4 linked regions of the Homo sapiens genome follow. The protein of the gene in region 4 purifies or fractionates together with the protein of the main gene of each other region. This does not show direct contact. Each region holds a gene or a part of one and is shown on either strand. Other genes may lie near its edges.

The links.
Region 1: the proteins of DLD (region 4) and KGD4 purify together in Homo sapiens (affinity purification with mass spectrometry; 4 studies listed by BioGRID and IntAct, with this or other methods). This does not show direct contact.
Region 2: the proteins of DLD (region 4) and NFS1 purify together in Homo sapiens (affinity purification with mass spectrometry; 3 studies listed by BioGRID and IntAct, with this or other methods). This does not show direct contact.
Region 3: the proteins of DLD (region 4) and DLAT purify together in Homo sapiens (affinity purification with mass spectrometry; 6 studies listed by BioGRID and IntAct, with this or other methods). This does not show direct contact.

Annotation. Positions count from the first base shown.
Region 1 is NC_000005.10:69,213,042-69,220,760, reverse strand, and holds the start of KGD4 (alpha-ketoglutarate dehydrogenase component 4), read right to left. Parts: upstream 3,002-7,719; 5' UTR 2,932-3,001; coding exon 2,890-2,931; intron 1-2,889. UniProt on the Homo sapiens protein: Molecular adapter that is necessary to form a stable 2-oxoglutarate dehydrogenase enzyme complex (OGDHC). Enables the specific recruitment of E3 subunit to E2 subunit in the 2-oxoglutarate dehydrogenase complex (OGDHC).
Region 2 is NC_000020.11:35,668,331-35,675,353, forward strand, and holds part of NFS1 (cysteine desulfurase isoform a precursor), read right to left. Parts: intron 6,873-7,023; coding exon 6,715-6,872; intron 6,288-6,714; coding exon 6,182-6,287; intron 6,102-6,181; coding exon 6,020-6,101; intron 5,355-6,019; coding exon 5,271-5,354; intron 4,515-5,270; coding exon 4,425-4,514; intron 1,356-4,424; coding exon 1,292-1,355; 3' UTR 1-1,291.
Region 3 is NC_000011.10:112,021,373-112,028,412, reverse strand, and holds the start of DLAT (dihydrolipoyllysine-residue acetyltransferase component of pyruvate dehydrogenase complex, mitochondrial isoform 2 precursor), read right to left. Parts: upstream 3,006-7,040; 5' UTR 2,941-3,005; coding exon 2,662-2,940; intron 2,216-2,661; coding exon 2,114-2,215; intron 1-2,113.
Region 4 is NC_000007.14:107,887,103-107,894,205, forward strand, and holds the start of DLD (dihydrolipoyl dehydrogenase, mitochondrial isoform 1 precursor), read left to right. Parts: upstream 1-4,080; 5' UTR 4,081-4,148; coding exon 4,149-4,187; intron 4,188-6,097; coding exon 6,098-6,176; intron 6,177-7,103. UniProt on the Homo sapiens protein: Lipoamide dehydrogenase is a component of the glycine cleavage system as well as an E3 component of three alpha-ketoacid dehydrogenase complexes (pyruvate-, alpha-ketoglutarate-, and branched-chain amino acid-dehydrogenase complex).

The sequences.
Region 1 (7,719 bases), on a different chromosome or scaffold from region 4:
CCCCACATTTCCCCCTTTTCTTTTCGACAAAACCGCCATCGTCATCATGGCCCGTTCTCGATGGTTGCTGTCTCTTCAGAGCTGTTGGGTACACCTGCAGAAAGGCTGTCACTTCACACTTGGAAGATTGCACTGCGGCCAGGCAGAGGCGCTCCTCACTTCCCAGACGGGGTGGCGGCCGGGCAGAGGCGCTCCTCACATCCCAGACGGGGCGGCCGGGCAGAGGCGCTCCTCACTTCCCAGACGGGGCGGCTGCCTGGCTAATTTTTATAGAGATGGGGTCTTGCTATGTTGCCTAGGCTAATCTTGAACTCCTGGCTCAAGCAATCTTCCCACCTTGGCTTTCCAAAGTGTTGGGAGTACAGGTGTGAGCCACCGTGCCCAGCTGGCTTTGTCTTTACTTAATGTTCTGAGACCACGCTTTGTGACTTCCTATCAGTTTGTACCAATCAGTCTTTTGGCACTCTTCTCTTCCTTCAAGATATGGATCAACAACCAAATTCTAAGCTCTATGTTTTTTTGTTTTTTTTTTTTGAGTCAGGGTCTAGCTCTACTGTCCAGGCTGGAATGCAGTGGCATGATTATGGCTCACTGTAGCCTTGATCACCCAGGCTCAATCTTCCCACCTCAGCCTCCTGAGTAGCTGGGACCACAGGTGCACATCACCATGCTCAGCTAATTTTTTAAAATTTTTATAGAGATGGGGTCTTGCTATTTTGCCCAGGCTGGTCTTGAACTCCTGGGCTCAAGCCATCCTCCTGCCTCAAACTACCAAAGTGTTGGGATTACAGGCATACATCAGTGAGCCTGGCCTAAACTCTAACTGGCACTGTAGTCCTAGCTTTATAGGCCTGTCACAGAGATACTCAACAAATTTTGCTAATGTTATATGTAATTATTACATAATATTAGCACATACTTTATTATTTATTTTTCGAGACCAGGTCTTGCTCTGTTACACAGGCTGGGGTGCAGTGGGGTGATTGTGGTTCACTGCAGCGTCAAACTCCTAGGCTCAAGTGATATTATATTAGCATATTGGTTGTATTCTCTCTTTTTTTCTTTTTTTTTAAGAGCGCAATCACGAACCTGATTTGAATTCTAAATAGGTGAGTACAGGTCTTTGTTCCTATGTTAGAAGGGCACAGACCATTCCTTACTGTATATCTCACAGTTTCTTCATTTGTTTGCACACATCAGCTGTTAGTATTGCTTTGGACTGTACTATTTTAACAAACTACCACAATTTGTTTATGCAAAAGACAGACATAGAGATTGTTTGTGGTTTGGGGGCTATCAGAAATAGAGCCAGGGACCCCATGGCAGTATATATAGTACCTGCCTGCTGAGATGCCACACTCCTGCTGCCAGGCTGGAACCCCTCAGCTCTGGACCCCAGTTCTTTGCTAGTAACTCTTTTTTTTCTGTGAACATTTACGTACAGAGACAGTATGTGCATTCACTTCTCTTGGGCAATAAACCTATGAGTAGAATTGCTGGGTCATACGGTAGATACATGCTTAACTATTAGAGACTGACAGCTTTCCAAAGTGGCTATAACATTTTATATTCCCACCAGCAATATTGAGGGTTTCAGACGCTTCACATTCTCATCACCACTGACGTCTAAATTTTAGTCATTTTGGTGGATGTGTAGGACCTCATGGTTTTAATTTTTATTTTCCTGGCAAGTAATGATATTGAGCACCTTTTAAAATGTTCATTGCTCATTTGGGTATCTTTTGTGCAACACGCCAAGTCTTTTACCCATTTTTAAATTGTTATATATTATTGATACATATGGTTATATATTATGGATAACAGACCTTTGTCAGTCTCTCAGTCCTTACAGAATCTTTAACTAGTTGATGCTCAGTAACTACCTACTGAATAAGTAAGGATCATTCATTGCAATGGGACCAAAGACTGGGATCTAGGATTATCATTCAGACAACAATTTCAGGAATTTAGAAAAAGGTCTTTTAAGAGATGTACTTATATAAAGCGGAATGTACTTCTCATATCAAAGATAAAAGTCAATTATAAAATAATATAGTTTCAGGGTTCAAAGACTATGTAAACCAACCACAAAAGTGGAGGTTGTGTTCCACTTATATAATAATTTTACCTAAGTTAGAACCACAGCTGAAGAAACAAATAAAAAGGCTATCAGGAGTTAGTAGCTGATAGGTGGATTAACAAAGTTACTTTAGCTGTCTATCTAAACCAGGGGAAAATAGGCTTGTGAAACCAACGCTTATACACACACACACACACACACACACACACATTAATATACACACACACATACTAATTAAACTTAAGTTTACTTTTCTATTTCCCTCATCTGGCCTGTAGCCAGACGCTTGGAGAGGTTGGGGAGAACCCGCTCCGGCGAGGACGCAGTACGCGGGGCCAGTTGCCCGACCATTCCCGAGACCTTGAAGGGACAGTGGGTCAGATCCAGGGTTCGCTTCCTTCCACGCCCCGCTACCGCCTTCCTTCCGATTGGCTGATCGGGGGCACCACAGCCAATCCTAGACGGCGATTGGCCAGGCTACCGCCAGGGTCGCCTCACCCGCACACGCCTAAGACTAACAAGGTCCTGGCGGAGGAGCGGGGGATCCCGGCAGTAGGTACAGGACCTACCTGCCAAGATGCTGCACGGTTGCCGCAAGGCTCGAACCCTCGGCGCCGGACCCACCTCACTGCCCGGTCCAACAGGCTCAAAGTCCCATCCTCACACACACCCGCGGGCGCCGTCACTGGCCCTCCGCAGAGGCGCGGTCACCGCTCTGCCTCTGCCACCGCCTTTACTCCCCGACGCCGTCGCCATAGTCAGCACCGTCCCTACCGCCCAAGATGCGGAAACGCGACAAATTGCTTTACCTGAACGACCCTACTAGCAGACGCCATCTTGCTGCCCATCATGACCCCCGAGAAGGGGCAGTTTCCGGGGCGCGAGCGAGCCGCGGCGATCACTGGAGTCCCGGGCAGCTGTGGGCGGTGCTTCCCGGGACGTCACGGAGGCGGAGACCGGACTGGGCTCTCCTCCGCCGTGGGGCTGGCTCCGCCCCCTGTGCCTGACCCCGCCCACCCCTTCTCCCTACTAGGATCCACCCACGTGTGTTCTATTGTTTCGTTTTGGGGACAAAATTTTGTTAAGGTGGGTCTCTGCTCATTAGCCTATAAATTGTCTAGGACCATTTCCTTTCCAGAAAGCCAGTCTATAATTTCGATATAGTTCAAAATTTTATCTGGAACCAAATAAATAATACAACCTTCTTATCTGACAGCTCTTGCAAAGATTAAAAAAATTAAAGAAAAACAAAAAAAAAACCTTGCGGTTTCCTAAAATGAATAATTTCGTTAAAATGGGAGTTAGTGGCAAGCTCACAAGAGTTTACTCTGGCTTAAAAAGGGCCATGTCACACTCTCTTGCTGATTGGCATTGCTTGATTGTAATTTGTTTCTGTTTTCTTTACCGTTTATTACTCCTGATATCGAACTGCTGGGCCTTTGCTTCAAGTTGAGATAACTCAAAAATTCAGAAATATTTGAAATGTAAGCCACTCATATCTTTCCCCCAAAATTACATTACGGGCGGGGCGCTATGGCTCACGCCTGTAATGCCAGCACTTTGGGAGGCTGAGGCGGGCGGATCACTTGAGGTCAGGAGTTCGACACCAGACTGGCCAACATTGTAAAACCCTGTCTCTACTAAAAATACAAAAATTAGCCGGGCGTGGTGGCGGGCGCCTGTAGTCCCAGCTACTCAGGAGGTGAGGCAGGAGAATTGCTTGAACCCAGAAGGCAGAGGTTGCAGTAAGCCGAGAGTGTGCCACTGCACTCCGGCCTGAGCGACAGAGGGAGACTCCGTCTCAAAAAAAAAAAAAGTTACATTACGTTCTGTGATAATGCTTAGGTTATATATAGTATTGTAAGCTTGACCAATGTGTTTGATGATATACATCAGTGATTTCTAAGTCTTGGGATCTTTTTAGAAATATAAATTACTGAACCCAGGTATGGTCTATTGGGATTCAGTGACTACAGAGAGGCCATTAACCCGTTTTGTTTTGTTTTGTTTTTGTGGTTTTTTTTTTTTTTTTTGAGACGGAGTCTCGCTCTGTTGCCCAGCCTGGAGTGCTGTGGCGTGATCTCAGGTCACTGCAACCTTTGCCTCCTGGATTCAAGCAATTCTCCAGCCTCAGCCTCCCCAGTAGCTGGGATTACAGACGCCCGCCACCACGCCTGGCTAATTTTTGTATTTTTGGTAGAGACAGAGTTTCACCATATTGGCCAGACTAATCTCCAACTCCTGGCCTCAAGTGATCCACCCACCTCAGCCTCCCTAAGTGCTGGTATTACAGGCGTGAGCCACTGCGCCTGGCCCCATTTTAATTATTTTCAAATGTGCAGTTCAGTCACATTAAGTACATTCACATTGTTGGGCAATTGTTACCATCTTCAGAAACTGTACCCATTAAACAAAAACTTATTCCTCCTTCCCTCAGCCTCTGACAACTATCATTTTACTTTCTGTCTATGAATTTGACTACTGTGGGTACTTAATGTACGTGGAGCCATAACAGTATTTGTCCTTTTGTAATTAGCTTGTTTCACTTAGCATGTCTTCAGAGTTCATTCATGTTGTAGAATGTGTCAGAATTTCTTTTTTAAGGCTGAAAAAATCCCATTATATGTGTATACCACATTTTGCTTATCCATTCATCTGTGGTAATTCTTTTTTTTTTTGAGACAGAGTCTTGCTCTGTCACCCAGGCTGGAGTGCAGTGGTGCCAACTCGGCTCACTGCAAGCTCCGCCTCCCTGGTTCACACCATTCTCCCACCTCAGCCTCCCAGGTAGCTGGGACTACAGGCACCCGCCACCACACCAGGCTAATTTTTTTTGTATTTTTAGTAGAGACAGGGTTTCACTGTGTTAGCCAGGATAGTCTCCATCTCCTGACCTCGTGATCTGCCCGCCTCAGCCTCCCAAAGTGCTGGGATTACAGGTGTGAGCCACCGTGCCCAGCCGATAATTTTTTTTTTTTTTTGAGACAGAGTCTCGCTGTGACACCCAGGCTGGATGCAGTGGCATGATCTCAGCTCAATGCAACCTCTGCCTCCTGGGTTCAACTGATTCTCCTGCCTCATCCTCCTGAGTGGCTGGGATTACAGGTGCCCACCACCACGCCCAGCTAATTTTTGTATTTTTAGTAGAGACAGGGTTTCTCCGTGTTGGCCAGAATGATCTCAAACTCCTGACCTCAGGTGATCCGCCCACCTTGGCCTCCCAAAGTGCTGGGATTACAGGTGTGAGCCACCGCACCTGGCCCAGTTCAATGCTTTTTAGAAAATTTTCATTTGAGACTCCTTTGACCTATGCCTCATTTAAAAGTGTGTTCAGTTTCCAAGTATTTGGAAATTTTCCTGTTATCTGACTGTTACTGATTCCTCATTTGATTCCCTTGTAGTCAGAACACAGTCTGTATAATTTCAATTCTTTTATATTTGTTGATATTTTGTCATCCAGGATATGGTCTATGTTGTTTATGTTCTGTAAGCACTTGAAAAGAGTGTTCTGCTGTTGTTTGGTGGAGTATTCTATAAATGTTGATTAGCTCCTCTGTTAGTCCATGTGTGCTACTGTAACAAAATACCTTAGTATGGGTAATTTATAACCACAGAAATTTATTTCTCATGTTCAGGAGGCTCAAAAGTCTAAGATCAAAGTACCAGCAGTTTCGGTGTTTTGTGAGGGCTCAGTCTTTTCTTCCAAGATGGTGCTTTGAACACTGCTTCATCCGAGGGGTTTAACACTGTGTGCTCACATGGCAGAAGGGCAGAAGAGAAGGAACCCATTCCCTCAAACTTTTTTTTTTTTTTTTTTTGAGACAGTCTTGTTCTGTCACCCAGGCTGGAGTGCAGTGGCACAATCTCGGCTCACTGCAACCTCCATCTCCTGGGTTCAAGCGATTCTCCTGTTGCAGCCTCCCAAGTAGCTGGGATTACAGGCGCCCTCTACCACACCCAGCTAATTTTTGTATTTTTAGTAGAGATGGGGTTTTGCCATGTTGGACAGGCTGGCTTTGAACTCCTGACCTCAGGTGATCGGCCCACTTTGGCCGCCCAAAATGCTGGGATTACAGGTGTGAGCCATTGTGCCTGGCCCTCAAACCTTTTTTTAAGGGCCTTAATCTCATCCATGATGGTTCTGTACTCATGATTTAATCATTTCCAATACCTTTTCGTATTGTCACATTAGCAATTTTCAATAGATGAATTTTGAAGGACACAGTCAGACCATAGCTTACCGCCTTTGGCCCCCCAAATTTATGTCCTACTCACATGCAAAATACATTTATCGGACGCTTGTTGCTCACACCTGTAATCCCAGCACTTTGGGAGGCTGAGGCAGACGGATCACTTGAGGTCACGAATTCCAGGCCAGCCTGGCCAACACGGTGAAACCCTGTCTCTACTAAAAATAAAAAAAATTAGCTGAGCGTGGTGGTGTATGCCTATAATCCCAGCTACTTGGAAGCCGAGGCATGAGAATTGCTTGAACCTGGGAGGCGGAAGTTGTTCACAGTGAGCCAAGATCGTACCACTGCACTTCAGCCTGGGGGACAAAGGGAAACACTGTCTCAAAAGACAAACAAAAAAAACCCAAAAATACATTTATCCATCCCAGTAGCCCCAAAAGTCTCAACTCATTCCAGCACCAACTCAAAACTATAAAGTCCAGAGTCTCACCTAAATCAGATATGGATGAGACTCAAGGCCATGACTCATCCTGAGGCAACTTCTCCTGCAGCTGTGAGCCTGTGAAATCAAATACATGTGCTTCCAAAACACAATGATGGGTCAGGAACAGGACTGACATTCCCATTCCAAGAGGGAGAAATAGGCAAGAAGAAAGGAGTAATAGGTCCCAAGTAAGTTAAAAACCCAAAAGGCCAACAACATTAACTCTTGAAGCTTGAGAATAATTCTTGACTCAGTATCTTGCCTTCAGGATGCATTGGGCTGGGGGTTGGACCCCCAAAGCCCCGGGGCAGCCCTACCCCATGGTTTTGATGGGCACAGTTCCAACCCAGCAGCTCTCAGCAGTTGAAGAGAGGTACCTGGGCTCTCTCAGGCAAGTATTGCATGCTGATGGCTCTACAGGTCTGGAGTCTGCCCTCCATACAGGGGTGGCCCTGCCATACAGCTCTGTAACAGCCTTTTATTGTTAGCCTTAGATAGCAGACAACTACCACTGAGGTTTTTTGAGATGGAGTCTCGCTGTCACCCAGGCTGGAGTGCAGTGGCACGATCTCGGCTCACTGCAAGCTCCGCCTCCCGGATTCACGCCATTCTCCTGCCTCAGCCTCTGGAGTAGCTGGTACTACAGGCGCCCGCCACCACACCCAGCTAATTTTTTGTATTTTTAGTACAGACAAGGTTTCACCGTATTAGCCAGGATGGTCTCAATCTCCAGACCTCATGATCTGCCTGCCTCAGCCTCCCAAAAGTGCTGGGATTATAGGCGTGAGCCACCGCACCCAGTTTTTGTTTTTGTTTTGAGACAGGGTCTCTGTCACCCAGGCTGGAGCACACTGGCACCATTATAGCTCATTGCAGCCTCAAACTCCCCAGTTCAAGCAGTTCTTCTGCCCCAGCCTCCTGAGCAGCTGGGACTACAGGCACATACCACCATGCCCAGATCA
Region 2 (7,023 bases), on a different chromosome or scaffold from region 4:
ACCTGGTATACAAATTCAAATATATCATCAAAATATATTCTTAAAATATGCATAAATGTACTCTAACATACTATCTCCTTTTTTAAGTACTGGTAACTACCCACCTATGGGTTCAGACCCACAAATGAAAAGCTCTAGTTACAATGGCCTTCTCTTGGTTTCTAAAGTATAATACTTTGTGCTTTATCACACTTCAGGCCCTTAGCTCTTGCCATTCCTTCTCACCTCTCATTTCTAGATTAGCGAGCTCTTCATATTTATAAGCACTACCTCCTCAGAAAAACTTTCCTCAAACACCCAGCATGGTAGGTTTTCCCTGCTATGTCCTCTTACCACTTAATTCTTTCATAGCACTTATCACAATCTATAACATTGTTTATTTGTTTAATTATTTTCCATCTCTCCACTAAAATTTAAAACTCAGTGAGGGCAGGGTCTTTTTTGGTCCTGTTAACCAGTGTATTCCTAATACCCAGAACAAATCTGGCTCCTGGCAGGCATTCAAATAATTCTTAAATGAAGAGATACAAAAGCCCACTGAGTCATTTATGCAAATCAGATGGAGTGGCGGTCTTCTCCACAATTCCCAAGTACAGCTTCCACTTTTCCCTCAACCTCTCATAAAGTCACAGAGTAAATAGAAGGTGAGTTTATTTCTCCAGTCTTGAAATTAACAATTTTCAAGAAAACAAATTATTAGAATAACTGGTGGAGTCACAGACATATTTCTAGCTCCATTAGGTCAAAGGAAAGGAAAGAGGACAAGGGTAGAAAGGAGACAAGCCCTCTAAGAAACTGTCCATTCAGTCTGTCTGCAGTCAATATGAAGAGATAGCCTTTGGAGCTACAGAAAATATTACATTGAAGTGGATTATGCTTGCTGTTAAAGAAGCTGGTCCAGCCGAGCAGCAGCAGAAGACGAAGACTCAAATGTCCATGTAGAGCATCATGGTCCCTGACCAAAGAGACTTCTTCTGGTTCCTCTTGCTCTCCTCACCAAGAGCACAGATGTGCCCAGCAGCAATATGACAGCAAATGTCTCTATGGCTTCGGGATGAAAATGTCCACACACTTTAAGACCCGAGAAGAAATGGGGAGTGCTCCACACCCAAGGAACTGAAGCTAGGGAAAGACAGTTTTCTTGTGTTTCTGTCATAGAGGTGGACTGATGCTGAAGTCAACTGGTCTATACCAATCTAGAGCATCCACTAGGTGTAACAAGGTGTCTGGTTGTGCACGGGTTGGTGAGGCAGGAGGGGCCAGACCAGCACAAAGTCAGGGCCCTATTCTTCTAGTGTTGGGTCCACTTGATGCTCTTGAGGTCAATGCCATCCTGAACCATCTCCCAGAGAGGGCTGCCAAAGAGAAGAGGCATTAAATGAGTGAGGGCTTAGATAGGAAGTCGACAACATTGGCCCCAAGGCTCTGAGCAATGGCTTGCCTCCTTCTGTCCCTGTCTGTCCTCTGCCTCTTGCCCTGGTAGACCCTAACACAGGTGGTTAAGGTATCCTGAGCTCTCCAGCTCCCTGTAAGTCCTTGTCAGCTCTCCTGAGAGCTCTCCCCAACTGCTAACAGGAATAACTAGGTTCCTCAGGCTCAATTGCAGTGGGGCCCTGAGCCAATGGACACCAAACATGGTCATATTCTTGAAGCTTTCATCCCACTGGTAAGAGGCTATGGCCATGGTTTCCCTTGGAGGAACCAAGACCCTTGAGACTTGTATAAACATCTAGTTTAAGCCTCTCTTCATATGACATGTATAAGCAGCTCGTTTCAGCCCACCACATATTACCCGCTTTTCAGCATTTGTTTCTTGGTTTTGTTCTAGTTCCCAGTTAGGGGTGGAACTTAACCCTACATCATCTTGGTATGCTGTACCCTTACCCAGTTCTTGCCCGTTTCATCTCCCCAGAGTTGGCCTGTGCTTCCAATATCCCTGGGTCTAATCCAAAAGAATTCCTTGGATCTTAGACCTGAGCATCCCATCTCACACAAGAGCTGCTGCTAAGAAATCTCTGCTAAGCTCTGATCGATCCCCAAGCAGAAGCTTGGATATCTTGGATAATGTTCCCAGACCAGATATTACTTCAGTGTGCTATGAATATGGGATTTTACAGTTTAGATTTCACCAGGTAATTTTATCAAATTTCATTATATTCTTGACTTGTCCCTCTTCTATATACTAAACATTCCCAGAATGCCTTTCTATTCATGAGATTTTCCATGGCCCTTAAAGTTAGCCATCTCCTTCCTGTCCTTCCTCTTTAGGGAAGACCACTTATTATTATAGGCTCACAAAATAAGACTCTGAGAGCTAATAGGACCAGGCTGCATTCAGTTTGTAAAGGGTCAGAAGGAATAGGGTGCAGATGCCGAAGCCACATAGATAGGAAACAAAAGGCTTTGCTGGCCACGTGGTCAGTAGAAATGCCTTGTGAGTATACCACAGAATACCAGAAAGTGAGGACAAAGGAAGGGTCCTGCAGTTGAGCAAGCTATAGACACTTAAGCAATACAGCTAGACCCTACAAAGAAAAATCCAGAACACAGAAAGGCCTGGGAGAGCTCATAAAGGGAAGCAGAGTATATACCTGAAATTCCTCTCTCTACCAACTAGATCAAGAGAATCCTGAAAGTCAAGGTTAACCAAGACAGAGCCAGGCTCTGAAAAAATCTAGAGGCCTCAAGGTTCCAGGAGGAAGATGAGCTCTGTGGCTACTAGGGGAAGCCCTGGTGCCAGCTGACTGGCCAAGGATCTCATTACCTTTATAAACACATTGATTGATTGATTGAGACAGAGTCTTGCTCTGTCGCCCAGGCTGGAGAGCAGTGGTGCGATCTCAGCTCACTGCAAGCTCTGCCTCCTGGGTTCACGCCATTCTCCTGCCTCAGCCTCCCAAGTAACTGGGACTACAGGTGCCCACCATGCCAGGCTAATTTTTTTGTATTCTTAGTAGAGACGGGGTTTCATTGTGTTAGCCAGGATGGTCTTGATCTCCTGACCTCATGATCCGCTCACCTCGGCCTCCCGAAGTGCTGGGATTACAGGCGTGAGCCACCGTGCCCAGCCACAGAAAATATATTTTTAAAATTAGCTAGGTGTGGGGGCACACAGCTGTAGTCCTAGCTACTTGGGAGTCTGAAGCAGGAGGATAACTTGAGCCCAAGAGTCCAAAGTTACAGTGAACTACAACTGTGCCACTGCACTCCAGCCTGGGTGACAGAATGAGACACTTTCTCTAAAGATAATAATAATCATAATGAACAATACTACCTGGGCCAGGTGCGGTGGCTTGTGCCTGTAATCCCAGCACTTTGGGAGGCCAAGACAGGAGGACTGCTTGAGCCCGGGAGTTTGAGACCAGCCTGGGCAACATAGCAAAACTCCGTCTCTACAAAAAATACAAAAACTAACCAGGCATAGTGGCACATGCCTGTAGTACCAGCTACTTGGGAGGCTGAGGTGGGAGGATCACTTGAGCTTGGGAGGCACAAGTTGCAGTGAGGTGTGATTGTGCCACTGCACTCCAGCCTGAATAACAGAGCAAGAACTTGTCTCCAAAAAAAAAAAAAAAACTACTACCTGCATTACCTGCATTCATCTAGTTCTTTAGTTTGTTGTTTTTGTTTTTGTTTTTGTTTTCTTGAGACGGAGTCTCACTCTGTCACCCAGGCTGGAGTGCAGTGGTGTGATCTCGGCTCACTGCAAGCTCCACCTCCCAGGTTCACGCCATTCTCCTGCCTCACCTCCCGAGTAGCTGGGACTACAGGTGCCCGCCACCACGCCCAGCTAATTTTTTTGTATTTTTAGGAGAGACGGGGTTTCAACGTGTTAGCCAGGATGGTCTCGATCTCCTGACCTTGTGATCCACCCACCTCAGCCTCCCAGAGTGCTGGGATTACAGGTGTGAGCCACTGTGCCCGGCTTTTTTTTTTGGGACGGAGTTTGGCTCTTGTTGCTCAGGCTGCAATGCAATGGTACAATCTTGGCTCAACGCAACCTCCCCCTCCCAGGTTGAAGTGATTCTCCTGCCTCAGTCTCCCAAGTAGCTGGGATTATAGGGATGCGCCACCACTCCCGGCTAATTTTTTTGTATTTTAGTAGAGACGGGGTTTCTCCATGTTGGTCAGGCTGGTCTCGAACTTCTGACCTCAGGTGATCTGTCCGCCTCGGCTTCCCAAAGTGCTAGGATTACAGGCATGGGCCACCCTGCCCGGCCTAGTTCTTTAGTTTTTAAAAACACTTTCTCATTGTGAAGACAAGTAGCCAAGAAGATCTACTTTCTTGCTTTGTGGAATCTCTAAATCCTAAGATCCAAGTACGCTTGAACTTTGGTTTTGGCAGTGTAAACACATAGCCTAAGGACAAGAGGGGAGACAGTGCTAGAGTTTCTTCCAAAGCGTCTCTGATACAATATGTATACCTCATTTCTCGAAGACGCTTCACATGCTGAATGCATTTCTCCACTGTGTAGTCCACTTCCTCCTCTGTAGTGAAGCGGCCAATTCCAAACCTGAAAAAAGGCACAGGAGAATGGCTCCCCATCAGAGCTCTGGCACTGGGATAAATTCATTCCGCAAATACTCACTAAGGATCTACGACACAAAAGATATGGAGAGAAGAACATGGTCCTTCCCCTTTAGGCAGAGTTTCTCAGAACATGGTATATGGATCGGCCGGGCATGGTGGCTCACGCCTGTAATTCCAACAGTTTGGGAGGCCAAGGTGGACAGATCACATGAGGTTGGGAGTTCGAGACCAGCCTGGCCAACATGGTGAAACCCCGTCTCTACTAAAAATATAAAAATTAGCTGGGCCTGGTGGCACATGTCTGTAATCCCAGCTACTCAGGAGGCTGAGGCAGGAGAATTGCTTGAACCTGCAAGTCAGAGGCTTCAGTGAGCTGAGATCATGCCACTGCACTCCAGCCTGGGCGACAGAGTAAGACTCTGTCTCAGAAAAAAAAAAAAGAACATGATCTACGGACCACCAACATTAAAATCACCTGAGATGTTTTCTACTCCTCCTCCGGACCTAGTGAATCAGAATATCTGAATGTGGGACTCAGATATCATATTTCACAAACTTCCCAGGTGATACTCAATGAAGTCTGAGAACCACTGCTCTAGAAACTTTCACAAGGTTATGAGAAGAGATAAGGAGAACTCGACTGAGAAAAACTTCAGGGTGGAAAAAGAAAAAAACTGTAACAGGAGATGAAAAATATAAGAGGATGCCTTTCATAAATGTTGCAGCTCAACTCACTGACCTGATAGAAGAGTGCGCTAAATCCTCATCAGTGCCAATTGCTCTAAGCACATAAGAGGGCTCCAGGGATGCAGAGGTGCAGGCACTGAGGAGAGAGACACGAACCTTGTTCAGTTCATCATCAACGTCTACTTTTAGTCACAAACCCTCAGTCTTGTTCCCATCCCCCAGGGCCCTGGAGTCATACCCTGGAGAAAACAAGAGACCTTCTAATCTGGCAGAACTAAAGGACCTGATGCTCCCCTGCACATCCTAGGATGTGTGAACCTAGCTCCTCTGGCCCCCATGGTGGATGACTTCCTTAAGCAAGGACGCTGGCAAAGTGTGACAGAGCATGATACCACATGGGTTTGACAAGAAGACGCAGCAGAGGACCATGTGCTCACTTCCCCAGGACGTAATGCACCATCTGCACCAGCCTGAAGGGCAGCCAAACACTTAGTGGCCTTTGGAGCATCTTCAATTCTAGAGGCCTGTAACAGAACTGCTAGTGTAACCCACAACAGACACATACATCCCCTGGGACGATAAAAGGCACAAAATTCTACCCCAGGAAGTCTTCCTAGGGTGGTAAACTTCAGTCTGTACCCAGCTACCCAGCCAACCAAAAAAAGAGAGGCACTTACAAAATGACCTTTACCCTTAATCAAGAGGTCTTGTGCCTATCATCTCCACACTGGGAAGTTTAATAGCCTGTATGACTCTTCTAAGTGGCCCTGCCGCAGGCCCTGTCTATGCCGTCCAGCTCACCTCCCTGAGGATAAGGCAACGTCCTTCAGTGCCATCAGCAGACTTTCCCCTTCCACATATGCAAAGGAGAGGTTGATACAGCCTGGAGGAAAGAAATACTGTGAGAGAGGTCTCAGAGTCTCAGCCTCTACCAGAATGAGGATAGAAAGAGCAAGTCCATACCGGGATAATGGTGCTTAGGGTCCCCATTCATCACCACATCTGGAAGGCTCTTCATTATATTCTGTATCAGCCGCTCTGACAACTTTGAGATTCGCTTGTGGTCATACTAAGGAGCAGGCAAGGAAGGATTAGGCAGTAACCATTAACCAGCTCAGAAAGACAGTTTGAGAAGCCCTTCTCCTATAACTGGAAGTGACTATGTATCAGCCCCACCTATCATCCTATGTACTCATGGGGACCACTGTATCTCCAGTACTGAGCATAGTGCCTGGTATGCAAAAGGCGCTTGATAACTGGACACAGGGTTCATTTACTTATCCAGAAATAAATGAGCTGATAACTACTAAAAGGCCATGGGTTTTGAAGCCCATAATGTCTCCCTCAGAACAAGGTGCCAGCAGCACCAGGACAAGGAAGAGTTTTCTTAAGCCCTCTCTCCCTGCAGAGATCTGCCTCAGTCATGCTGAGAAGCCTCTAAATAGGAGACCCAGCACAGGGGAAGAAGTTGTGGGAGGGAACTGCTCTCCCCATACCTCCATCTCTTGCTGTGCCACCTCACACGCAGCCCCCAGCCCCACCACTAAGGGTGTGGGCACTGTCCCAGACCGCATACCCCGCTCCTGCCCCCCTCCACTCTGCAGGGCCTCCACACGCACACGGGGCCGGCGACGGATGTAGATGGCACCAACCCCTGGGAAACAAAATTTGTTACAAAAAACAGAAAGAGAGAAAAGTAGATAAAACAAAATATTTCTTTCCAAAGGGATCAAAATATTACTTCAACTTTTCTGTAAGCATGAAATTTTTCTAAATAAAAAACGTTAAGGAAAAGAAGAAACAGC
Region 3 (7,040 bases), on a different chromosome or scaffold from region 4:
GAGTCTCATTCTGTCACCAAGGCTGGAGTGCAGTGGTGCAATCTCGGCTCATTGCAACCTCCCCCTCCCAGGTTCAAGCGATTATCCTGCCTCAGCCTCCCGAGTAGCTGGGATTACAGGAACAGGCTGCCATGCCCGGCTGATTTTTGTATTTTTAGCAGAGACGGGGTTTCACCATGTTGGCCAGCCTGGCCTTTGTGTCTAGAATTATACAGTTCATGTGAAGATAAGGCCACTACGACAGATTTCAAAGAAGAAATTACTTTAGAAACGCCTTGGTTAAAATCAGTTTGGCCAGCTGCTGACAACTTATCCAACCAATCTTGTCTAACATCAAGTTGTGAAAAACACTTCAGTTTCTTAAACAAAGGGGTAGCTACACATCCAGAAAGTCAATGTTCAGTCAATTAGGCAAAGCCAGTCTCTTCGAACTCATCTCCGTTACTTTAAAACAACTTACCCTCTCCCTCTCCCTCTCCGTCTCCCTCTCCCTCTCCCCACGGTCTCCCTCTCCCTCTCTTTCCACGGTCTCCCTCTGATGCTGAGCCGAAGCTGGACTGTACTGCTGCCTTCTCGGCTCACTGCAACCTCCCTGCCTGATTCTCCTGCCTCAGCCTGCTGAGTGCCTGCGATTGCAGGCACGCGCCGCCACGCCTGACTGGTTTTCGTATTTTTTTGGTGGAGACGGGGTTTCGCTGTGTTGGCCGGGCTGGTCTCCAGCTCCTAACCGCGAGTGATCCGCCAGCCTTGGCCTCCCGAGGTGCCGGGATTGCAGACGGAGTCTGGTTCACTCAGTGCTCAATGGTGCCCAGGCTGGAGTGCAGTGGCGTGATCTCGGCTCGCTACAACCTCCACCTCCCAGCCGCCTGCCTTGGCCTCCCAAAGTGCCGAGATTGCAGCCTCTGCCCGGCTGCCACCCCGTCTGGGAAGTGAGGAGCGTCTCTGCCTGGCCGCCCATCGTCTGGGACGTGAGGAGCCCCACTGCCTGGCTGCCCAGTCTGGAAAGTGAGGAGCGTCTCTGCCCGGCTGCCATCCCATCTAGGAAGTGAGGAGCGCCTCTGCCCGGCCGCCCATCGTCTGAGATGTGGGGAGCGCCTCTGCCCCGCCGCCCCGTCTGGGATGTGAGGAGCGCCTCTACCCGGCCGCGACCCCGTCCGGGAGGTGAGGAGCGTCTCTTCCCGGCCGCCCCGTCTGAGAAGTGAAGAGACCCTCCGCCTGGCAACCGCCCCGTCTGAGAAGTGAGGAGCCCCTCCGCCCGGCAGCCACCCCGTCTGAGAAGTGAGGAGCCCCTCCGCCCGGCAGCCACCCCGTCTGGGAAGTGAGGAGCGTCTCCGCCCGGCAGCCACCCCGTCCGGGAGGGAGGTGGGGGTCAGCCCCCGCCAGGCCAGCCGCCCCGTCTGGGAGGGAGGTGGTGGGGCCAGCCCCCCGCCCAGCCAGCCGCCCCGTCCGGGAGGGAAGTGGGGGGGTCAGCCCCCGCCTGGCCAGCTGCCCCGCCCGGGAGGTGAGGGGCGCCTCTGCCCAGCCGCCCCTACTGGGAAGTGAGGAGCCCCTCTGCCCGGCCACCACCCTGTCTGGGAGGTGTACCCAACAGCTCATTGAGAACGGGCCATGATGACAATGGCGGTTTTGTGGAATAGAAAGGGGGGAAAGGTGGGGAAAAGATTGAGAAATCGGATGGTTGCCGTGTCTGTGTAGAAAGAGGTAGACATGGGAGACTTTTCATTTTGCTCGGTACTAAGAAAAATTCTTATCCTGTTGATCTGTGACCTTACCCCCAACCCTGTGCTCTCTGAAACATGTGCTGTGTCCACTCAGGGTTAAATGGATTAAGGGCAGTGCAAGATGTGCTTTGTTAAACAGATGCTTGAAGGCAGCATGCTCCTTAAGAGTCATCACCACTCCCTAATCTCAAGTACCCAGGGACACAAACACTGCGGAAGGCCGCAGGATCCTCTGCCTAGGAAAACCAGAGACCTTTGTTCACTTGTTTATCTGCTGACCTTCCCTCCACTATTGTCCTATGACCCTGCCAAATCCCCCTCTGCGAGAAACACCCAAGAATGATCAATAAAAAAAATAAATAAATTAATTAAAAAAAAAAAAAAAAACTTACCTCTGCAATTAGGTCACCTTCATTGATTTTGTCCCCCTCTTTTTTTTCCCAACGGGCTATGGTGCCTGCCTGCATTGTGGGGGAAAGAGAAGGCAATGGAACCTGGAAAAGGAAAAGAAGAAACATTAAAATTTTTAAGGACTACCTAACTCTCAGTCTGGCTTAAGATTTCATTCAATTCAATTTCATGCAAAGTGTATACAGTTCCATTGCACATTGGGAACTAGGGATGCCAAGGGAGTTCCTGTCCATGAGAAGTTAGTAATTTCCAGTGACAGGCTTTCTCCTCCACAGTCCTGTGGGTCTGACAAAGCATGAACCTCGGCAGATATTCTGCATACAGCCCCAGTCTTGAAGCTCTCCTTTCAATGAAATAGATCATGAGAGGGACACTAAGGAGCTACAGCAAAGCCAACTATTGGACAAAGGGCCAAAGCAGATACTGGGAATGGGTGGAGGATCAGTGAGGCCTCTCAAGGAGGATCTTGCAGGCATCCAGTCAGCTCTGAAGGACAACGGGGTCCCGAGAAGGGGGGTCTAGGGCTCACCTTCTGATGCGGGGGAAGACTGTAATAGCGGCGGCCGGGCGACCCCAAAAGCTGCAGCAGTAAGCGGTTCCGCGGCGTGGCCCCAGAACTGGGGGTCCAGCCGCACAGTGCCCGGACCCCGCCATACCCTGTAGTCACGCTGTTGCGACGAGCGGGAGCCGGGCCAGATCGCGAGGTCACTCGTGGAGTTCCGGGTACCTCCTGCAAGGCCGTCCACCGAGCCTCGAGTCCCGCCCATGGGGCTACATTCTGAGCCCGTCGCGCACAGACGCGCCACATAGTGCCACCAACCCCCCACACCCCAAAACCAACGCCGTCTCCGGAGTGACCTCTCCAAGAGCAGCGGCGTTGCCGTCAGCCACACCGCACAGCCGCACGTTGTCGTAAAATGGTTCCCGCAGGTTTACTCCACCCGCTCCCCAGGCCAGAAATGCGCGGCACGCACGCTCTTTCTCTACGGAGCGGGGACGAGGGGCACTACGGGGCAGGAGTGTTCCAGAGGGGCCTGTGCGGGCGCAAGTTTGGGAGAAATAACAGACGGAAAGGGGTGGAAAGTGGTAGGGTTCTAGGGGAGGCATCCGAAAGGGTGAGACGGGGCCTAAGAGATGACAAGGGCACGACCGAGGGGGAGGGGCCTAAAAAGGCGCAGAGACGCGGGTTAATTGCGGCCGAGTGGCCTGAGAGTCTGGGCCGAGGGGCGTGGCCAAGCTTTCTGGAAAAGCTGGAAGTGAGCCCGGGAACTGGCTAGGGCAGTGGGAGCCTCAGGCCAAAGGGCGGGGGTCTTGGAGTGCTGGGGTGGTGAAGGAGCCAGGAATCGCCCGCGAGGGAATCGAGGGGTCCGGCGTGGTGACCTCTGCTTCTGCGCATCCGAAGGGGGATGGACTGGGCCGCGCCCCGCGCAGGCTGTACTGGTTGCAAAGATTTCGTTTCAGGTTTGTAGCCCAAGTGGAAAGTGGAGTGAACAGGTGTTCCACCCAGCCAAGTGGTAACGAAAGGCAGCCCAGAGGAAGATACATTCCCGCATTCATGTATACTGTAGCAAGATTAAGCATATTCCCTGTATGAAGATATAGGTTTACAAAACAGGTGTTGCTCCCTAATACCATAGAATTCTTTTAAGTAACCAAAAGCTTCGTTATGTTTCAAATGTTTGAAAAACTTAACTGTAAGCCGTTGAAGGCATGAAGAGTGTCTGCGTGGTCCTTCCATGTAGCCCCAGAGCTTAATATCCAGTAAATAGCGGGGGCTGAATGTATGTCTTTTGAATCAATGAATAAAAAGTCATCTACACATTTTGTTAGGCACGCTTCTCTTGTAAAGTTGTCTTTTAATTAGAAAACATATCGTTTCTGAACTGAAGGTGACATTAGATAAGGAGGAAGCATGTGCTGTGTATCACCACCTCCCCCCTGTAGAGATGGTTAGAGAACACCAAGAACGCAAGAGGAAGTTGGAGGGAAGAAACTTAAAACAAGATTTTAGCCAGGAGCGGTGGTGCATGCCTGTAGTCCCAGCAATGCTTGAGAGGCTGAGGTGGGGGAATCACTTGAGCCCAAGAGTTTGAGACCAGCCTGGGCAACATAATGAGACTCCCATCTGTTAAAAAAAAAAAAAAATGGGGGCTAATCTTGCTAACAATTAATTTGGAAAACTAAAACAGATTGGATGTACTATTTCATGCCTACTTAAATTGGAATGTTTAAGCAGGTACAGCTGTCTATCAGAATAATATGTAAGCAATATAATTGAGAAATATAAAATTTCTAGATTGAATGAAAAGGCATATTTTAAATAATATGAAGAGAGCAATTATATTGTTACAATTATGTACAACTTATGAATTAACAATTGGAAGAAGCAATGAAAGAATAATTGTAATTACTGAAAGGACTTATTACTATTATTTGGGGATGGAGTCTCACTCTGTCGCCCAGGCTGGAGTGCAGTGGCATGATCCCGGCTCACTGCAACCTCCACCTCCCAGGTTCAAGCGATTCTCCTGCCTCAGCCTCCCGAGTGCTGGGATTACAGGCACGTGCCACCATGCCCAGCTAATTTTGTGTTTTTAGTAGATACGGGGTTTCACCATGTTAGTCATGCTGGTCTCAAACTCCTGACTTCAGGTGATCCACCTGCCTCGGCCTCCCAAAGTGCTGAGATTACAGGCGCGAGCCACCATGCCCGCCCAGGACTTATAAATTATTATAAAAATGTTTTTGAGTTGGCTAAAATATCTTGCTGCTTTTGCTGCATTTGAACTTAATAACTGGATCTAAATTAGACTTTGGTATAAAGTATGAGGTGATCTTCCGGATCTGTTGTGCACTTAGGTATGCTTGCTTAAACCCTGTTTTGCATTTTTCAAAGAATAGCGAGTTTGTGTCTTGAATATACTTTTGACTTAAGTGTAGTTAAATTATAGGAATGCATAGCTCAAACAGTCCAGAGATGGCGAGCTTACCCCAGAGGTGGGCTAGGAATGCTTAGGTTTCTCAAATCAGTCCTGAGAGAACAAGCTTGAATTCCACTAAACAGACTGGATAAAGGAAATTATGGAAAAGGAGACTCAAGACTCAAAGGTTTGAAATAGAGATACTTAAGAGAATGGTGATATCACTGATATTGAGAGAAACAGAAATTAGTTGGTAGTGAAAGATTTTGAGTTATGTACATATTTAATTTTAACATAATGGGATAGCCAATTAATAGTTGAAAATACGTAATTGGAAGTCAAATGAAGGCACTCAGGGATAAAGAATTTAATATAGCAAACATTTAAGATGAATTGATAAGAGGCATTTAAGAGGCAGCTTTCAAATGATCTGGGAATTCTGGTCATTTTAAATACACATTTCTGAAAGAGTTCTTAATGCTTGCATACTGACTTTTGTCATAGAGTTTATACTCTTGGGTTCTTATTTGTTTGCATGTTTACATATAATTTCAAAATAAGTGCTAAATAAATTGTCCTTGATAATAGCCTATGTGCTTACATAGAAATACTAATTGTAAAATATCTGTAGCAATAAAGTAATTCTTATCTCCACTCCACATAGTGAGTAAACATGCTACCAGGGAGATCACTTGAGGAAATTTGCTTTCACTAAATGTAAATGGCTTTATTGATTAATCTCATCAGTAAACGCAAGTGAAAATCATTAATGATATTTAGTTTGCAAACCCCATTTTATTCATAGTTTGTGGTTTTTTAAATTAGTTCACAAATCTGGTACATACCGGCAGTTAAAACTGGTTATCACTTTGATAATCAGAAGCCTCTGGTGTAACATAGTCTTCATGAAAACATATTGTAAAACAGGGAGAATACACAGTAATAATCTCTTTGAAAGCAATGGCTGTAAACATCCATGTTTCTAAGAAAATATAACTTTACATATATATGTATTTTAAGCAAGCTATACCTCTTACATAAATTCAGACAGTAGAAGGAGTGTGCAATCATAATGCTTATTTTATGGAAACAGTGAAAATAATTTTAATTATGACCTAAATGCTTTTAAGTAATTAAAGTCCTCTTGAATTGGATGTATAGTATAAAGATATTTTCCCTAATTTGCAACCATCCTGGTCAAAAAGAGCTGAAAAGTTGGTCAGTAAGTAGAAGTGCCATTACCAAGTAAGTTTAAAACAAATTCTTCAAATTTAAAAATGTAAAAATTGTAAAGTATCCCAATCCCCCCAGCTAATTTAGGGAACTGAGCAAGAAGAGAACATTCTTCAGTTTTTAAATGACTTTTTTTTTTTTTTTTTTGGAGATGGGGTCCTGCTCTGTAGCCTAGGCTAGAGTGCAGTGGCATGATCAGCTCACTGCAACCTCAAACTCCTGGGCTCAAGCAATCTTCCCACCTCAACCTCCTGAGTAGCTGGGACTACAGGTGTGTGCCACCATCCCCAGCTACTTTTATAATAAAATTTCTATGTAGAGACGGAGTCTTCCTACGTTGCCCAGGCTGGTCTTGAACTCCTGGGCTCAAGCAGTCTTCCTGCCTCGGCCTCCCAAAGTGCTGGAATTACAGGCATGAGCCACCACACTCAGCCTTAAATGAAGATTTTGTAAGGAATTGAGCATTCAACTAAACTCGTTTTTGTGAGATGGTCATTTTGTTTTAACCTAACATGGTTTAGAGATTATTTTATGAACTCTAAGCATTCTGGTTCCTCAGTTTTCTCAAAGAAAGAGAACTTTAGCAAGTAGCAGGACAAGCTACCCCACACCAATGCCACCAGGCGACAATACTATGAATAAGTCAGGAGGCCTCCTAGAATGCAGCCAAATAGGAAACTGTTCCAAACAGAATCAGTCTTGCATACTTCTGCTCAGAAGGCTCCTCTCGCTTTGGAAACTGGAATGAGGATCA
Region 4 (7,103 bases):
GTGTTTTGAAAAACCATGCTTTTCAAATATTTTGATTGCCTGACTTATTGCATGTATAATGAATAACTCATCTCCATTAACCCACTTAAATTAAGGGGTTTAATGAACCCCTTAAACTGCCAGTTAGAACTTCTGATTCATTTAAGGTAACCACTGTTAAGAATTAAAATAAGTGGGCTGGGTGCGGTGGCTCACACCTGTAATCCCAGCACTTTCGGAGGCCGAGGCGGGTGGATCACGAGGTCAGGAGATGGAGACCATCCTGGCCAACATGGTGAAACCCTGTCTCTACTAAAATACAAAAATTAGCCAGGCGTGGTGGCGGGCACCTGTAATCCCAGCTACTTGGGAGGCTGAGGCAGGTGAATCACTTGAACCTGGGAGGCAGAGGTTGCAGTGAGCTGAGATCGAGCCACTGCACTCCAGCTTGGTGACAGAGCAAGGTTCCGTCAAAAAATAAAATAAAATAAAATAAGTGAGAGACAATATAAATCTTTAAAATATGCTTTGTCTTTGACCTAGCAATTCCACTTCTGGGAATTTACTGCAAGGAAATGATAAAGAATGTGTGCAAAGACTTAGTGATAAGCTAATCACGATATTGAAAAATTGGTAATGGCTTACATATCTAATAATAAAATATAGTTGAATAAATTAGGGTATGTCCCAAAATACTCAGTAGTCATTAGAAGTAGGCTAATATTGAGAGGTGACAGCGTGCTGGCAGCCCTTGCAGCCCTGGCTCCCTCTCGGCGCCCCCTCGGCCTTGGTGCCCACTCTGGCCACGCTTGAGGAGCCCTTCAGCCTGCTGCTGCACTGTGGGAGTCCCTTTCTGGGCTGGCCAAGGCTGGAGCCGGCTCCCTCTGCTTGCGGGGAGGTGTGGAGGGAGAGGCGCGGGTGGGAACTGGGGCTTCGTGCAGCGCTTGCGGGCCAGCTAGAGTTCCGGGTGGGCGTGGGCTTGGTGGGCCCTGCACTCGCAGCGGCTGGCCGGCCCCACTTGCCCCGGGCAGTGAGGGGCTTAGCACCCAGGCCAGCAGCTGCAGAGGGTGCGCCAGGTCCCCCAGCAGTGCTGGCCCACTGGCGCCCAAGGGCTGAGGAGTGCGGGCACACAGCGGGACTGGCGGGCAGCTCCGCCTGCCGCCCCAGCGCAGGATCCACTGGGTGAAGCCAGCTGGGCTCCTGAGTCTAGTGGGGACTTGGAGAACCTTTGTGTCTAGCTAAGGGATTGTGAGTGCACCAATCAGCACTCTGTGTCTTGCTCAAGGCTTGTGAACACACCAATCAGCACCCTGTGTCTAGCTCAGGGTTTGTGGATGCACCAATTGGCACTCTGTATCTAGCTAATGTGGCGGGGACTTGGGGAATCTTTATGTCTAGCTAAGGGATTGTGAATACACCAATCGGCACTCTGTATCTAGCTCAAGGTTTGTAAACACACCAATCAGCACCCTGTGTGTAGCTCAGGGTTTGTGGATGCACCAATCGGCACTCTTTATCTAGCTAATCTGGTGGGGACTTGGAGAATCTTTATGTCTAGCTAAGGGATTGTGAATGCACCAATCGGCACTCTGTGTCTAGCTCAAGGTTTGTAAATGCACCAATTAGCACTCTGTGTCTAGCTAATCTGGTGGGGAATTGGAGAATCTTTACGTCTAGCTAAGGGATTGTGAATGCACCAATCGTCACTCTGTATCTAGCTCAAGGTTTGTAAATGCACCAATCAGCACTCTGTGTCTAGCTCAGAGTTTGAAAATACACCAATCGACACTCTGTATCTAGCTAATCTAGCGGGGACTTGGAGAACTTTTGTGTCTAGCTCAGCCATTGTAAACGCACCAATCAGCACCCTGTCAAAATGGACCAATCAGCTCTCTGTAAAACAGACCAATCAGCTCTCTGTAAAATGGACCAATCAGCAGAATGTGGGTGGGGCCAGATAATAAAAGCAGGCTGCCTGAGCCAGCAGTGGCAACCCGCTTGGGTCCCGTTCCACAGCGTGGAAGCTTTGTTCTTTCACTCTTTGCAATAAATCTTGCTGCTGCTCACTCTTTGGGTCCACACTGCCTTTATGAGCTGTAACACAGCGAAGGTTTGCAGCTTCACTCCTGAAGCCAGTGAGACCACAAACCCACCAGGAGGAATGAACAACTCCAGACGCGCTGCCTTAAGAGCTGTAACGCTCACCGCAAAGGTCTGCAGCTTCACTCCTGATCTAGCGAGACCACGAACCCACCAGAAGGAAGAAAGTCCGAACACATCCAAACGTCAGAAGGAACAAACTCCGGACACGCCGCCTTTAAGAACTGTAACACTCACTGCGAGGGTCCGCAGCTTCATTCTTGAAGTCAGTGAGACCAAGAACCCACCAATTCTGGACACAATATGAATATGGAAAGTTGCTCATGAGATAGTTTTAAGTGAAAAAAATCAAGTTAGCAAAATAAGTGTGGTCCAATTTCTGGTTATATTCCTTAGCTGGAATATAAACACTGCTAGTGTGGGCTGTCCATTGTTGACATCGCTCCCTCCACCTCCCGTGTGTTCGCATTAATTTATATGCGTTGTGGCTTTTGTTCTAGCTGAGAGGAGAAGAGGTATAGTTGGTACAAGAGATGAGGAGGAATGTGGAGAAATATGGTGAGTGCAGTAAGGAATCTATTTCCTGCCTCACTTCTCATACTGGGTTGAGCCCCTAGGCTTTGTGAATGACAGCTGGAAAGGATGGAAGTGTTTCATTTTTTAAAAATAAAAATATGATATTGTAATTTTGGACAAAGGAGTAGGGAACAAAGCCCAAGAAAGTTCAGGAAAGAATTGTGAGATTTTGTGCATATGGAGCAGTAACTCCTAGACCAGATGTCAAAGACTGCCATGAAGCTGGAGAGGAGACAATTCTCCCCATCTGTGTGGTGGAGGCTGCTCAATGTCCCCCAATTTCGCTTCATCTCATCTTGCTTATTAATACAATTTCAGTTAGGCACTCAGCTGACAGGACTATGTTTCACAGATCCCCTTGCAGCTAGGTGTGGCTTTGTAATCAGATGGAATGAGGGGATATGATTGTAGAAACTGGAGCAGCCATCTTGAATGAAAGATGCAAGGCAAGCTCTGATGATGGCAGAGTCACGAGATAAAAGGAGCCTGGGACCCTGTCACAGGACAGAGCTGCCAGCAATACCGTCTCTATAACAAACACTAAATTTAATTATTCATATCTAAATCTGAACATAGGCAGTAATTTCTAACCAGTGTTTAGCCCAGCACAAGGCCTGGGTGGTAGACTTCCAATAAATGTAGAATTAAGTTTATTCACACTATATAGACTTATTGCAAGGCAAGAATGAGACCTTAGACTTTCGTGCTCAATCTTGAAGACAATGTTTTTCAACCCTTTTCAACAGATTCTCTCTCAAAACCTAAAATCTCATCCACCATCCCACTCTCTTTTTACCAGGGAGATGTGTTTCTCAACTAAAGAAATAGAAGAAAGTGTGTTCTCTACGTATTGTCAGTTAGCTAATTAGAGCAGAATGCTGGTGATGCCAAAATCTGTAGCCCCATCCCTTATATGGCATTTGAGAGGAGCGAGTATAAAGCAGTAGATAATACCAAAGGTTTTGGCCTCAGGGCCGCAGTTATCTCTCCTTTGTGAGACCTTGGGGGCACTGTTTAACCTCTCTGGGTCTCATCCAAGAAATGGAAATACTAATAATACTCCATATGGTTGTTGCAAGGATGAAATGAGATGTCTGTAGGAAGTGCCGAGGAATGCCTAGCACAACCAAGAGCTTGTTGAACTTGTCACGCTTTACTGTCGATAATGTGCATTAAGCAAACGCTAGTTTTATTTGTTTATTTCATCTTCTAAGTATAAGAATACATTGTAGCTCGACATTTTGGCACCAGCCCCTAAAGCATTCCCACCACCACCCCCGCTGCGACAAAGCCCTGCGCTCCTTACGACAGCGTACGACGCCGAGCCTGACAGGAACGCCTCGTGCGGTAGAACCGCGCGGGCCAATCGCGCTGCTCCCGGGTGATGACGTAGGCTGCGCCTGTGCATGCGCAGGGAGGGGAGACCTTGGCGGAGCGGCGGAGGCGCCCAGCGGAGGTGAAAGTATTGGCGGAAAGGAAAATACAGCGGAAAAATGCAGAGCTGGAGTCGTGTGTACTGCTCCTTGGCCAAGGTGAGGGCCGAGTAGGTGAGGTCGTGTTGAGCCAGAGGCACGGAAGGTCCCGCTCAGTGGGTCCGGTACGCGGCTTAACCGTGTTGGGCTGGCGGAGGCGGGCGCCTGGGCCGCACCACCCCTGGCCCCGCCTCTGCACTGGCTCAGCCCGGCCCTGGGCTCCGAGGTGGCCGCTCATCCTGCAGCAGGCGAGGGACGGGGCTGGGCCCAGGCTGTGGCGAGTCCTTTCGGGTTGTGTGACGGCCGGCGGTCACACATGCCACACCCCCAAGCCTGGGCCGAGGGCCATCCCGGTCACACATAGGCCTCTACCTTGGAGGAAGTGTAAGCCACCCATGTCCCGTATAGTCTGGCTTTTTATACCATTTGCCTTTTTCTCATCCTAATTCTGATCCCTGAGTGGCCTAAGTTTATGCAGTGGGCAGGTAACCCTGGGGTCACTTCTTGAATGGTTTAGATCCAGTCAGCTCCAACAGATAGCCCTCGGAATTCCCCTAAGGTCTTGTCAGTGTTGGCAGCTTTCAACTGGTGTTCATTGCCATCTCTCACGACTTCCTGGAGGCTTAAATCTTTAATTGCAGCAGGTTATCAGAACAACTCTCCTTTTTAATCTGCTTACCAGATACAGCCAAATTGTGTGTATGTGGCACCGTGGCTGGGTACTATGTTAGTGGAGACCTTAAAAATAATATAGCGATCAAACCCTTTTGTTTCAGAGATGAGGAACCTGAGTTCTCAAAAGTTAATGTAACATTCTGCAAGTCATGCTTTTAGGGAGCGGCGGAGGTGGGACTGAAACTCAGGATTGTCAATCTGCTGCTTTTTGGGTTTGCTGTCCTGACCTCAAATGTTAAGAGTTGCCTTGGAATAGGAAACATCAGTGTAGGTTTTGTCACTGCCGCCCATTTTCCTGCTGTGAGCAGGGGTTATTTGCTTGCTTGCTTTCTGCCTCATTGCCCTTAGGAAATGGTAGCCGTCCACATATAGAGATTAGGGAGATTATGATGCAATTTGTCAAACTGTAGTAGCACCAGAACGTAAGTACATTACTTGGTGCATTTTCCTAAGTTACCTTGTCTAATTTGCTATTCCTAGTTGATGTCTCAGGAACATCTTCATAGATTGTTCTAAGTAAATACGGACTGTATATACACGCTAGCTTAGAGTTAGGAAACAAAAATTACAGGTAAAAAGATTATCATGTATAGATTATTCAAGTATTTAAGTTAGAACTTTCAGAGCTTTATTTATTTATTTATTTATTTATTTATTTTGAGACGGAGTCTCACTCTGACATCCAGGCTAGAGTGCAATGGCACTATCTCAGCTGACTGCAACTTCCGCCTCCCGGGTTCAAGTGATTCTCCTGCCTTGGCCTCCCGAGTAGCTGGGATTACAGGCACCCACCACTACACCCGGCTAATTTTCTTGTATTTTTAGTAGAGTCGGGGCTTCACTATGTTGGCCAGGCTGGTCTCGAACTCCTGACCTCAGGTGATCCGCCCACCTCAGCCTCCCAAAGTGTTGGCATTACAGGCGTGAGCCACCACGGCCGGCTCAGAGCTTTATGACATTAAAATGATCCCTGGCACTAATAATTAGCCATGTTTTCTGAAAATTGAATAAAAATACCATTGAATACGTTTTTAAAATTAAGTTAAATATGAGATGATTTGTTGACTATTGATAATAAAAAGATGGGTGTGGCAAGCTGAGGCTGAAAAATTTAAATGATTAGTTATTGTCAAAGAGGGGATATTGATCTGTAGCTTCTGTGTGGCAATGGAAGAAGATACACTAATAATCCTCGCTTGATACGTTTGCCCAAAATTGTTCTGTTATCATCAACCTTCAGTAGTTCTATGTTTTGAATTCATATCTTACATAATAGGGACATTTTCTTTTTCTAGAGAGGCCATTTCAATCGAATATCTCATGGCCTACAGGGACTTTCTGCAGTGCCTCTGAGAACTTACGCAGATCAGCCGAGTAAGTACTTAAGTAAAACATTTTTTTCATCACATTAGCTGACAGTTCCTTTCTATTTCAATGTAAAAGCAAGTGAATATTGGAATAACTTATGTTAAGTGTCTTATAGTTCATTTGTTCATGTATTTATTCGTTTGAATGTATATTGAGCTAGTGTGTTCCAGGCGGTGAACAAGGTAAAAAAACCCTGCTCTTATGAAACTTGTAATTTGGTGATAAAAGACAAACAATATATAAGTAATGGATAAATATTTTGGGAAGTAACTGAAAATTAAAGCAGGTAATAGGGAGGAAGAGAGATAATTTTAGATACAGTGTCAGGAAAGGCCTTTCTGAGGAGATGATGTCTGGGCAGGGTCCTGAGTGAAGTGGGGGAGTGAGGTTACTTCAGGCAGAGGGAAACAACACTGAGAAAGGCCTGAGGTGGGACTTAGCTTGTGAAGTTTAAGGAGTAATAAGAAGGCTGGTATGACTGGAGCAGAAACCCATGCAATGTAAAGTCGGAGAGGTAGGCAGGAGACAGATCATGGAGTGCCTTGTAAGGCAGGTCTAGTAGTTTGGATTATACTCCAAGTATGATGGGAAACAAAGGTTTTGAGCAGGGCAGCAATTTCATATGTTTACATTTAAAAAGTTAATTTTGTCCGTTGAGTAAGGTTGTATTGGTTATTTTAACACTGTTTAGAATGATGAGATGACTTTCTTGACATCCTGAATGAAAGTCTTCATGGGTTTATCAAAAGCATGTTTTAAAGATTAGCAGGATCTAAAAGGAAGCTATGGGTCATGGAATTTTCTCCTGTGTACTTTTTTTATATTTTTGAAGTTCCCATAAAGGATATGCATTTTATTTTTTTAAGTATTTAAAACAGAAAGTTAATAGGATTATATTGAAGTATTTTGACCTGTCAGTACCAAGGATATTGA